Regions from separate parts of the Homo sapiens genome. Here regions 2, 3 and 4 are each reported to be linked to region 1. Evidence: microRNA targets listed by miRTarBase, many of them from high-throughput screens and not tested one by one. Region 1 holds a microRNA gene; each other region holds the end of a gene's coding sequence.

Region 1 (3,122 bases):
GTGGGCCCAGGAGTCCACCTGCCTTGAGTGTTGTGACTGCACTTGGGCAGGAGTGGAGCCAAAAAATAAAAACAGAAGCAGCCTTGGCACATAGTAGAACCTTCTTATATTTTATTTACTTCCCAACCTTTTACATGTCATGAAATGCATAGAATACAATACAATTTTTTTTTTTTTTTTTTTTTTTTTTTTTTTTTTTTTGGCAGAGAGTGGTTCCCCAAGGTGGATGCTATTCGGGGAAATCTTGCTGATCTTGCCCTCTTCCCAAATGCATGGGAAATATTACCCATTTGTCACACAAGCTGTCTGAGGACGCAGTAGCCTGTGAGGTCAGGGGAAGAGCCCTGGCTCCTCTGAACCTTCCTCTTGGTAGCACAGGCCATGGCACTTCGGCATGTCAGATCTAAGCCAGAATGCAACCTCCTCAGTCACCCACCCTGTGAGCTGTGGGCTGGCAGCCTGACCTCTCTGAGCCCAGGCGGGTGAGGAACCCTGCCCAGGTCCGTGGGGGGGTGGAAGGACCAGATGTCACGTGCCTGGCACATCCTGAGTCCCACTTCATGTCCTTTCCCTCACCCTCCGTGTTCCCTCAGCTGAGCTGGGCCCAAATCTTCATCCCAGGGAAATGGGACCCAGTGACCAACTGGGCTGTGCTACTGCAGGCACCTTTGAAATGAGCCCAGGGGAAGCAGTAAGAAAGCAGCAGGCTATGCTTGGAGAAGCGCCCGTCCTGTCCACCATCGCTCCACCTTTCTCCATCACTCCTTACCTGACCTACCCCAACACAGGTGGCCAGAGGCAGGAGGGCTCCCCAACAGCTCCTACAGGTGTTCCCTGCAGCTTCCAGCCAATTCTCACAGAGCGACAGCTGTTCTTCTGGCCTTTGCTTGGGGTCTGAGCCCAAGCACATGTATCCACATGTGCGAGTTCAGGCTGAGCTCCCACGGTGGGCAGCACCTTTTGTGTGTGTGCCTGTGCATGTGTGCACACATATGTGTGAACTGTGCAGGCTGTAATTTCCAAAACCAAATTTGGCTTTTTTTGATTTGTAAGTTATTTACATCAACGAATTTTAAAGAAGCATAAAATGAAATTAAGTTAAAGTTTTAGTGGATCACCTCTGAAAAAGAAAAACTTTCATTCTGTGAAATTGGATTTCTAGAAAATTCCAGGATTCCCCACAGTTAAAGGCACAAGGCAGGGACAAATTCTGGCCATGTCACATGCAGGGGGCATGGGTAGTAAGAGTGGGAAATGGGGTTCGGGGCTCAGTTCCCCAGCACCTTGCTCTTCCTTTTTCTGACTCTCCTGGTTTGTCTTTTCTGGTGTCTGTGAGCCCCTCAAGGGCAGAGGCCATTTCTCATTCATCCTAGCATCCAGTACCCAGGGCCCAGCCTGTCATGAGGAGGTGCCCAGCAATCTGAGCGTATTTAAGACTGGGTCCTGATTCTGTCTTTTGTCCCCTCCTTGGGTTCCCAAACTCTCTGTATTCTGCTCCTTCACATTTAAATTGACCCCCAAACAGGATCTCCCAGCCTCCTTGGAGATGTGGGCTCCATGCAGGGATGACAGAGGCTGGGGTCTGGAGCCTTCCCCCAGTGCCACCGAGCTGGAGCCTGCTGAGTTTGCAAGTCATCACGGAGAATCCTCGGCTCCTTCGGAGATACCACCCCTGGGCCTACTCTGGGTTCTGAGATGGCAGCCCTAGTGCCAACCTCATCCAGAAGTCATCACTCCCTGGGGGACTGTGAGGGTGTCATCGAATATCTGCCAATCTGCTGACAAGTAGACATCCCAATGGCCATGGAGAAAACATCCGTGCAAGGGCTTTGATCCTCCGAGGCTCCATGAGAACACTGCTATTATAATAGTTACTAAGCCTAATAAAAAGTATAATGATAGAATATATATCACGATGTTGACCCAAAATGGCAATGTTTAGTTCTTAGGGAATTCAAAGTACACAAAGTCCTTGAGAAGGACACAGCTCTCAAAGAGACTCAGGTCACCTCCCTGCAGTCGTCACCCTCCCCGGTAGCCAGTGCAGGCACAAGGATCTGCCACTCCCTGCTTAAACCCTACCCCCTTCCAGAGCTCCCCATTCCCTGTGGGAAGTCACAGGAACACCCAATCCTTGTGAGCCAGACCTTGGCCCAGACTCTCGCCAGTCACCAGCCAGCTGGCTGCTGCTGTTCCGGTGCCCTTCCTCATGCTGTTCCCAGCGGACTCTCCCCACAGGCTGCCCTTCATCCTCCAGAGCTCCACCAGGGTGATCGTAGACCAGAAGGGTCCAGGTGCTTGACCAGCAATCATTCTAGTAACTTTTGGGAGGTCACACTTTCTAGGAGGCCTCTAGTAAGTCCCTCCCCTCCACTTCCAGCTGGGGCCGGTGACCCCTCACCCTAAGACGTGAGGCCTCTAGATCTGTCTTATTCTGCTCCCAGCCTTCCAGGTTCTGGAGAGCAGGAGGCCCTGGCCCAGGAACAGGCACCCAGCAGATGCTCAGCAGCCATGTGTGCAACAGAACTAAATCTTCCAGCTTTGGCTGAAAGCAAACATCATGGCTGTCTCAGCAGGCACGTGCTCCCAGGGTTGTGTCCTTCCTGGAAGATCTCAGCTTCTCCCACATCTGTGTCTCCTGAATCCACACCAAAGGAGCCTCGTTCAGAAGGGACCCCAGGACAGGGCACGGACACCTGTAATCCCAGCACTTTGAGTGGCCAAGGCAGGCAGATGGTTGAGCCCAGGAGTTTGAGACTAGCCTGGGCAACATGGCCAAATCTGTCTCCACAAAAAACGAAAAATTAGCAAGGTGGGTGGTGCACACCTGTAGTCCCAACTACTTGGGAGGCTGAGGTGGGAGGATCGCTTGAGCCTCACAGGCCAAGGCTGCAGTGAGCTATGATCTAGCCACTGCACACCAGCCGCTGCAACAGAGTGAGACCCTGTCTGAAAAAATAAATAAATAAAAAATAAAAGGAAGGAGCCCTGGGTTTGATTCGGGCCTCACGATGTGCCCTCTCACTGCACGAAAGTGGCCCAGGGGCACACTCTGCCCCTCTCTAGGAGGTGGTAGTGACCTGGGAGGGCCTTGGAGCGGATCTTTGTGTCCCTCAGTACAT
Region 2 (3,122 bases), not on the chromosome of region 1:
TCGAGTCCATATGATCATGCACGCCGGAGGGAGACCGTATGAGTGCAAGCAGTGTGGGAAAGCCTACTGCTGGGCAACATCCTTTCAACGACACGTGAGAATTCACAACGGGGAGAAACCCTATAAGTGTGGAAAATGCGGGAAAGCATTCGGTTGGCCCTCATCCTTACACAAACACGCGAGAACGCATGCTAAAAAGAAACCTGTGAGTGGGGGCAGCGTGGGAAAGTCTTCCGCGAGGCCTCGCCCCTCCACAGATGTCAAATCACAAACTAGAGAGAAAGTCTATAAATGTGAAACGTGTGGGAAAACGTATGGTTGGTCCTCATCTTTACACAAACATGAGAGAAAGCACACTGGGGAGAAACCTGTAAATGCAGCCAGTGTGGGAAAACCTTCAGGCGGGCTTTGCTCTTCCAAAAATGTAAGAACGCAGATTGGACAGAAGCCCAGTAAATGCGAAAAATGTGGGAAAGCTTTCAGTTGTCCCAAAGCCTTTCAAGGTCATGTGAGAAGTCACACAGGAAAGAAATCCTGTACATCTAAGTAATGGGGGAAAACCTGTGCAAATTAATTCACATACATGGTTCAGAAAATTCACAGCAGGAGGGCCGGGCGCAGTGGCTCACGCCTGTAATCCCAGCACTTTGGGAGGCCGAGGCAGGCGGATCACGAGGTCAGGAGATCAAGACCATCCTGGCTATGGTGAAACCCCGTCTCTACTAAAAAAAAAAAAAATACAAAAAATTAGCCGGGCGTGGTGGCGGGCACCTGTAGTCCCAGCTGCTCAGGAGGCTGAGGCAGGAGAACGGCGTGAACCCGGGAGGCGGAGCTTGCAGTGAGCCGAGATGGCACCACTGCACTCCAGCCTGGGTGACAGAGCGAGACTCCATCTCCAAAAAAAGAAAATTCATGGCAGGAGAAGAATCTCATGACGTTTATAAATATGGTATTGCCTTTATCAGGACCACATCCTAAAAGTGGGCCTCTAGCAAATGAATTTGCAGTTCTCTTGCAGGTAAAGTTGAGGGGAGAATCCTGTAAGTCCTCTCTCACCTATAGTACTGAAATTTTGATACATAATGGTTTTTTCTTATAAATTACTAATGTTTCTCTTTTCATTTAGAAGTGTATTGCACCCATGGGTGATCTGATGTATTTTAATATGCATTAACTTTAATTTTTATATATTTTTTTTGTTACTCCGTGTGAGGCCATTAGACCAATGAAATATGGGTGTTTGTTGACATTTTCTGACTGGCCCTGTGTGTTCCAAGCTGGATATTACTACCATGTTACTTTTATTCCACCTTTCCATTTTACAGGGAAAAACTATTTTTAATGTTAATACTTTCTACTTATACAGGCAAGTAATTCAGTGGCTTTATGCTATTGGTCAGAGAATCCTTCTTCATTTTGCTTGTGGACTAATAGGTAGTTGGTAGAAATACGTATGCATGCAAATTCTTGGAGGAGTGTAGTCTCGTGGGAACTATTTTTTTCATCTGTTGCTGTTTGCTCTTTGACCTGGCTTCTGGGTTGGAATTGGAAAATAGGTTTTTTTGGGTTTTTTTTCTTTTTCTTTTTTGAGACAGAGTCCTGTTATGTTGCCCAAGCTGGAGTGCAACGGCACGATCTCGGCTCACTGCAACTTCCGCCTCCCGGTTTCAAGCGATTCTCCTGCCTCAGCCTCCCAAGTAGCTGGGACTATAGGCATGCACCACCATGTCCAGCTAATTTTTGTATTTTTAGTAGAGACGGGGTTTCACCATGTTGGCCAGGGTGGTCTCAAACTCCTGAAATCTGCCCGCCTTGGCCTCCCAAAGTGCTGGGATTACAGGTGTGAGCCACTATGCCTGGCCATATTATCATTATCTTAATACCTCATTGTCTCAGTATTTCTTGTGCTTCTGTGTTCCTGCTTCCATGACAGATACAATGGTACAACCATAAAAACACAGGGGATTGCGGCTGGGCGCGGTGACTCACGCCTGTAATCCCAGCACTTTGGGAGGCTGAGGTGGGCGGATCACGAGGTCAGGAAATCGAGACCATCCTGGCTATCATGGTGAAACCCCGTCTCTACTAAAAATACAAAAAATTAGCCAGGTGTGGTGGCGGGCGCCTGTAGTCCCAGCTACTCGGGAGGCTGAGGCAGGAGGATGGCGTGAACCTGGGAGGCGAAGCTTGCAGTGAGCTGGAATCGTGCCACTGTACTCCAGCCTGGGCGAAAGAGCGAGACTCTGTCTCAAAAATAAATAAATAAAGAATAATTTTTTAAAAAAGCACAGGGGATTGTTTCCCTACTGCATCTACTGTGACCTAGTATTCTTCGTGAGATAAATCTTACCTTTCATGAGAAAATGAAAGACAATACTGGCTTATCAGGTAAACTCTGGAAATTTCCTGTCACATAGAGCTGAATACAATCTCTCAGTATGTGTTCAGTTATTATGTTTGATTATGTATTATTAAAACAAAAGTTTCTGTTTCTGAGAAATATCTATTTACTGTGTTTGTGTTTTTAAAGAAGTTGGATTCTATACAAATGGATAAAATGTTTCTTAGAAATAGCCTATTTAACTGAGTTTTTCAAATAAGTTGTATACTAACAAATGTCAATCTCTGTTTTTTATTTACTGGGAGAATGTATTAAAATATTGAAAATTGCCAAATCAACATGGTGACTTTAAAAATGATACTTCTGGGCCAGGCACAGTGGCTCACGCCTGTAATCCCAGCACTTTGGGGAGGCCAAGGCGGGCAGATCATGAGGTCAAGAGATCGAGACCATCCTGGCTAACACGGTGAAACCCCATCTCTACTAAAAATACAAAATATTAGTGGGGTGTGCTGGTAGGTGCCTGTAGTCCCAGCTACTCGGGAGGCTGAGGAAGGAGAATGGCTTGAACCTGGGAGGCGGAGCTTGCCAAGATTGCGACACTGCACTCCAGCCTGGGTGACAGAGCGAGACTCCGTCTCAAAAAAAAGAATTATACTTCTGAATTAATATTACCAGATGCATTCAGATTTAGACATTTTCTTTCTAGTACATTTGTTTCCTATACTGTTATAATTTTGTCTAAGAAATTCTTTTTTTTTTTTTTGAGACAGATTCTCGC
Region 3 (3,122 bases), not on the chromosome of region 1:
CCAGCCCCTTCTGTGAACCCATTAACCCAGTAGACAGACTCAATCAGTCAGAGAGCGGATACATGGCATGAGCACCACTACCAGCCACATGGTGCTCACGGCAGATTTTACTAATCAATCACAGACTCTTTCCCTCTGAACTTGCATTGGTGCTAGAATCCTCTTCACTCCAGCTCCCTCCACAGCCTCCATGAACTTATCAGTGAGAAGCACGCAGTTTCGACTCTTCCATCTGCCATCCTGATCAGGATTGTTAATGTCCCTCCCAACTCTCAGGTCTTCAGCCCAGTTAGCTTTCAAATCTTTGGCTTCTCCCTGCCTTCTCTACCTTCTGAAAAGGAACTTTGGGCTCCGTTTTCCCTCATATTCCTCCTGAAGACTCTGTCCTGTCACGGGATTTCAGAGATTTACATCCCTGCTCTTATACTCTCTAGCTATGTGGCTTTGGCAAGTTTCATAACCTCAGTGAGCCTGTTTCCACATCTGTAAAACGGGACCAGCATCTGCCTTGAGAAGTGAGAACGTGCCTGGCAGGGCACCAGCCATGTGGGACCACACACTAGTCCCTGCCCTTGCACAGCCTGCTCTGGGCTCTGCCAGGGAAATCAATCAAGGATTTTGATGGGGAAAAAAAATGACACAATCAGCCATTACTTGACAAAATTTTACTTTAGCCCTTGCATCTCCCTGCCAGGCTGCCGGACAGCTCCCCCGACACCCAACCCAGGAGGCAGCCTGATCCCACCTTGTGCTTTGGTAGGGGACATCCCTCACCCCTCTCTCCCAGGAGACCAGGGCCAACGTACCTTGAGAGTCTGTAAACCTACGCCAGGACTGGGGTTAACACCCCAGCCCACCAGCTGAGTCTGCCAGGACACGGGGCTCTGGGAAGCTCTGAACCCCTCCCATGCCCCAGATCCTGTGCCACCCACACCCACACCACTCAGGACTCTGGAAGGAGGTGAGCGGGGACCATACCAAGACCCCAGAGGTGCCTGTGGAGAGCAGGGCTTGCTGGGGGGAAGACAATGAAGCAGCCAAGGATCCCTCTCGAGGGGCTCTGTCTCTGGCTGTGCTTCTCCAGCCCAAGCTGCCCCTCTCCCCGGGGGCAGTGACAACTGTTCCCCCAGAGCAAGTCCAGAGTCACAGACCGTATCCCCTCCCACCAGCAAACAGGAAACTAAAGCAGTGAAAACATCAAGCTTTGTTGCCAGAGAAAAAAAAATGAACCCTAAGTATTTAAAATTCAGACGGAAGTCCCAGCCCACCGGGCCAGCCGTGAGCTGCAGAGGCCTTGATTGCAGACACACACCCCTCCATATTTCCCCAAGCTCAAGGGTCTCCAGAGACAGAAGGAAGGGGTTTTGGGCTGAGTCTGTCACCAAGAGGCAGCGTTTGGGAAAATCAAGGTCAGGGTGGAGGTGTCCTCAGGGGGCCACCGGTGTGGGGCACTGAGGACTGTAAACATGACCCAGGGTGAGGGCCAGGAGGTGTCCCAGCCCCGAGGTTCTCCCTGGATGAAAAATGGGCACTGTGGTGAGAAGAAAGGGGACCGGCGGTCAGCCCCGAAGCCAAGCAAGACCTGGTCCCCACCAGGAGTATGGGGGTGGGGGCTGAGCTCAGGAGGGGACATGTTAGAGGGGGCTGCCTGGAGCTGAAGAGGGGCTCTGGAAGCCACACTCGGTGTGCGGCTTTTTCTCCGCCACTAGGTCAGCACCTGGGCCTTCCTAGGCGGTGAGTCAGCTGGTGGCCTCCCCTCCCTGGGGGAACCTGCTAGAAGGTCACCTCGGGCCATGGCTACCCAGCCCAGGAAGGGAGGTCAGGCAAGCTCCCAAGGGGCCCCAGGCCTAGGGGCCAAGACTGAAGGATGCAGTCAAGGAGTGTCTGGAGAGCCCTGTGAGAGCCACCACGGAGACACAGACAGGGCCCGCGGCCAGAGAGCCACTGCCACCAGGAGCACCACCATGAGGCCTGGCAGGGGACTTTTGGCAGAGTCCTGCCTCAGCCAGCCCAGGCCAGGAGCCCCGAGGACCAGGCCACCTCACCCTTCCGGTCCTGCACTAACACCTGCACCTGTGTCCCCAGTCACTACCCTCCCAGCCACCGTCCTGCTCCTGGAGGCAGGCAGGCACAGAGCCAGGCCAGCTCCTCTGGCAGGTCCCGGAGCAAGGCCAGGCCCAGGTGTGGCTGCCATGACCGATCCTCCCTCTGTCCACCCTGAAGGCCTGGTCAGGAGCTGCACTAACTGTGCATTTGCTTTTCAGGCCACAGATCGCCCTCAGTCCCAGTGACCCTCTGAGCTGCAGGCCCGGCAATGCCTGTTGCCAGCACAGGCCTCTGCCCGGCAGCTCAGGCCAGCCTGGGGCCGGAGTTCTCAGGAAACCTCCCCCTCAGGCCCTGGATTCTCCTTAGTGTTGCACGTGACGTTCCCCTCAAGGGTAGGCCTTCTGGGTCACATGGTCCTAAAGGCCCACTCAGAATCCAGCACCTTCTCAGAGCCTGCATCCCCCAAAACCAGGCCACTCAGGGCCTGGGGGCCAGCCTTGCCCATGATTTCCCTCAGGATCTGCTCCCCCAGTCTCTCCAGGACCCGGCCTGTCCCAGAGGGCATAGAGCTTGTGTCCCCCTAAAACAGGCGCCCTGGTGGCCTCAGGGCTGGACCCGGCTGCTGAGCCACTGGCCACGCAGGGCCCGGATCTCCTGGCCATAGCACTCGTGCAGCCGGGCGAAGGGGGCCATGTCCAGGGGCCCGTGGGGTGCCGAGGCCCGGCGGCGAGGCGGTGGTGGAGGGGGCTCGGGTCCAGGCCTGAAGGTGGCCTCAGTGCTCCAGACAGCGCAGCCATTCTCCTTGGGCGGGAGGGCACTGGGCCGGCGGGGCAGGGGCAGGGCTGGGACCGGGGCTGGGGCAGAAGGCAGGGATGGGACTGGGGCCAGGGCAGAGGGCAGGGACGGGGGCAAGGGCAGGGACTGGGGCTGGGGCTGGGGCAGGGCCATGCCACCCCCGCCACGTACAGCCGCCAGCTGCTGCTCCAGCTCGCGCACCACCAGCCGCAGGTAGTCGAAGCTGGCACGCGACAGGGCCTTGACCCAGCCCTCCATGGCATCCTGACTCTCAGCGGCCA
Region 4 (3,000 bases), not on the chromosome of region 1:
GTGAGGTGGCCAAATATGGGCAACAATCCTTCCCCACATGGTCACAAAATGAATGGAAACAGATGGCATACTCTTCAGATCTCACAGGTCCAAAGGAGGGTCTAGGGAGGAGCTGGAGAATGCTGCCTTTCATAGTCCTGAAAAGGTTTCTTTCTATTAAATGCACCAAAGCTGGAGTGCCAGAAGAGAGAGGGGCTGGATCTCCCCAACCAAGGTCACAGGACAGATACATTTCTTAAACCCAGTGTCTCAGGACCTCAGAGATCCTGGTCCAGAAAGTTCCCTTTTTCATGGATTGGATCTTGTAACCCATAAGAAAAAAATAATATGACTTTGTTTGCTGCCTTTGACCTAACACTTACTGTTTTATCATGATGATGGGTAGATTAATAACTGCTCCTGATAGCAAGTACATGTTAATAACATCGAAGCTTAATGATCAAGGAATTAACAGCTTGACACAGGTGTGAGTGCTCTGATGGGAAGAAGGAACCCCTGTGAATGCAAAGGACTTTTTTCCTGCAATGCATGCAGTGCTCTGGACCATATCATCTCAACCCAGGTCAATCTGTAATTGCACATCCTGATGACGGTAAAGAGAAATGACCTGGATGCTTCCACAGCTTGTGCTGTGAGGCCAGAGTGGCTGGTGCTGTGCCACGCTTAATACTGCATGCTTGGACCCTTCTGACATCCCTCCCAGTGCTGGGAGTTTACAATCCTGATAATGCCTCCAGTGCAAATGACTTAAGAAACATCCTTCGCTGGGCTCTGACCTATAATTTATTAACCCACGGTTAGATTTATTTAGTTCTGGCTTATTTCAGGTCTGTGGGTATGCATTCTTTTCATTGCTAAATGTGCTCCCTCAAAGTTGTGATGTCTTTAATTAGACCCATTCTATAAATTATATCATGGTAAGAAAGAAAAAAGAGAAAGTCATGGTCAAGAGACAGCAATGTAAAAGGAATAGATATTTTCATACAGTGGGTCTGATTTTCTCAGTGAGTCGAGATGGTCTTCTTAGAAGTAACATTCTCCACTGATGCTCAGAGCCTATGGTGACCTAGCAATGGTGGAGGGTTTCCCACAGCAGTGTTTTTCAAACCAATGTACATAAACATCACCCAATTCAGCAGGTCTAGGGTGGAGCTGAAGAGCTGGCATCTCCAACAAGCTCCCAGGTGATGCTGATGACTGAGTAGCAAGAACCTAAGTTACTAAATCAAAACACCAGCTCCCCAAATCATCACAATCCATTTTATTCCACAGCATGTTTAAGGGAATGTTATTTTCAGGAAGATGTTTGGGATTAAAATAATTAAAAAAAAACTGGAAATTCACACATTTATGTATCTCTTCTTTTCATTAAATATATATCTGTTTGGCAAAAAATGTTAGACTCTTTTGTACAAAAACAAAGCAAAAAAAAAAAAAAAAACTAACCCAAAACTCTTGCAAATTGTAAATACCAGTAATAATTACAATGATGTAAACTTGGATGTCTGACAGCTTGACCATCCTGTGGAACTTGAGTTGCAGCAGGACCTCCCAGGAGAAGGTAACACCAAACGCTTGGATAGCAACAGTCCGTCCTAGAGGCATTTAGGTTTAGTCTATTAGAGATGGAGCGAGACTACTGATTTCACCATTTGTGCTTTCAGCTAAGAGGCTGGGAGCGTGGGTGGAAATGAAGAAGGCAGTTCTGGCCTGGGGCAGGGAGAGGAAACCCCAGACTAGCTGGTGAGGAGGGAAGATTTGTCACGATCACAGTGCAGACGCAAAGTGGGCATGGGACCTGTGGACTGTTTGGGAAATTTATGCTAGGGAGGATCACGAGGAGGCTGCGGCTGCTGCTCTTGGGACCAAAGAGGAACAGAGCAAGGCAAAAGCAGGGAGAGAGGTGGGAGGAGATTTGAGCGCAGATCTTAATTCAAGTGTAACTGGTGGTGCGAGATGATTCTAGAGAGAGGGGAAAGGAGGATGTGGGGTTTGGTCTTCTCATCAAATAGCTAGGCCATTTCCTCCAGACAGGGGCCTTGGGGCACTGCCCTTGGTCTGGTGGGCAAGTTTTTGGGCAGTCTGGGGCTGCTGGCTTTCCTGCCCAAGGGAAGGAAGGGCATGCCTGCAGAGGGCTAGGATGGAAGGGCCCTTTGGCCTTCTTACTGGCAGTGGGCTTTGCTCTTGTCCCACCAGTGGACTGCAGCCATGGGAAGTGACCTGAAGCAGTGGAGCCGAGGAACAGAATCAGGGCGGTGAGCAAGATGCCAGCTAGGGGCTGAAAGTTGCCAGGGCTAGAGGTGATGCTGAAGGGAATGTGGACCCACAGCTTCCCTTTACCAAAGGACGGTTCCAAGGCGTGGGTGTGTTTTCATTCCTCTCTCCTGTTAGCTAGGTGTTCCAGTTTTGGAAGGGGCATGTCTGGGCCCGGCCACTTCAGTTACAGTCATAGACGAAGTCATAGTTGCTGGGCTCCTTGGGAATCGGCGGAGGTGCGTCAGGGATCTGGATGTTTTCCAGGTCCAGGAGGCGGAGCTTGATTTCCATGCTGAGCAGGGTGTCCAGGTCATTCCGCGTCAGGTCGCTCATCATGTCCTTCCCGAGTAGCGCATTCAGTCCATCCGTCCAGATACAGTACTGGCAGGAAGGGAGGCAACAGCGATCATTACTGGTGGCAATTACAGAAGTATTAATAGTAAAAATAGCTAACAGTGAATACTCATCCCTCAGTAGGCTGTGCGCTAAGGGCTCTGCCTACTTCGTCATTTCATATTTGGCGACATCTCAATATAAAGTCGATACTTCTGTTATCTCTGTTTTATAGGTGAAGGAACTGAGGTACAGAGAAGTGACTCAGTATTATGTAGACCGGGTGGGATTTGAACCCAGGCAATCTGACTCCAGTGCCTGTGCTCTTCTTTGCAAAGAATGCTTCTCTGTAACAGCTGAGGATTGGAGTTCTCCATGACTTGCAATGTAACACCTAGGTGGGAGTCTATG

The links. Region 1 holds the annotated microRNA hsa-miR-4267 (UCCAGCUCGGUGGCAC, at 1,599-1,614, opposite strand). A microRNA usually pairs through its seed, bases 2 to 8, with sites in the 3' UTR of a target mRNA and lowers its output. Matches are read on the target gene's strand: a 7mer-m8 pairs with bases 2 to 8, a 7mer-A1 pairs with bases 2 to 7 and ends in A, and an 8mer does both.
Region 2: miRTarBase lists ZNF556 as a target of hsa-miR-4267. Seed matches in the 3' UTR shown: 7mer-A1 at 1,276-1,282, 7mer-A1 at 1,615-1,621 and 8mer at 2,195-2,202.
Region 3: the mRNA of PHETA1 is a reported target of hsa-miR-4267. Seed matches in the 3' UTR shown: 7mer-m8 at 2,142-2,148.
Region 4: miRTarBase lists ELMO1 as a target of hsa-miR-4267. Seed matches in the 3' UTR shown: 7mer-m8 at 1,234-1,240.

Annotation. Positions count from the first base shown.
Region 1 is chr2:110,068,419-110,071,540 of GRCh38, forward strand. It overlaps MIR4267 (microRNA 4267), which reads right to left and starts at 1,624; the gene lies at 1,543-1,624.
Region 2 is chr19:2,877,780-2,880,901 of GRCh38, forward strand. It overlaps ZNF556 (zinc finger protein 556), which reads left to right. Exons shown (of 4, transcript NM_024967.3): 4 at 1-3,122. The coding sequence ends at 550. Among named protein-coding and RNA genes, the nearest start is that of ZNF556, 12 kb to the left of the region's middle.
Region 3 is chr12:111,360,029-111,363,150 of GRCh38, forward strand. PHETA1 (PH domain containing endocytic trafficking adaptor 1) reads right to left here. Exons shown (of 3, transcript NM_144671.6): 3 at 651-3,122. The coding sequence ends at 2,650. Among named protein-coding and RNA genes, the nearest start is that of PHETA1, 7.5 kb to the right of the region's middle. RefSeq lists an enhancer at 1,728-2,384.
Region 4 is chr7:36,853,115-36,856,114 of GRCh38, forward strand. It overlaps ELMO1 (engulfment and cell motility 1), which reads right to left. Exons shown (of 22, transcript NM_014800.11): 22 at 1-2,637. The coding sequence ends at 2,437. Among named protein-coding and RNA genes, the nearest start is that of MIR1200, 65 kb to the right of the region's middle. RefSeq lists an enhancer at 1,574-2,075.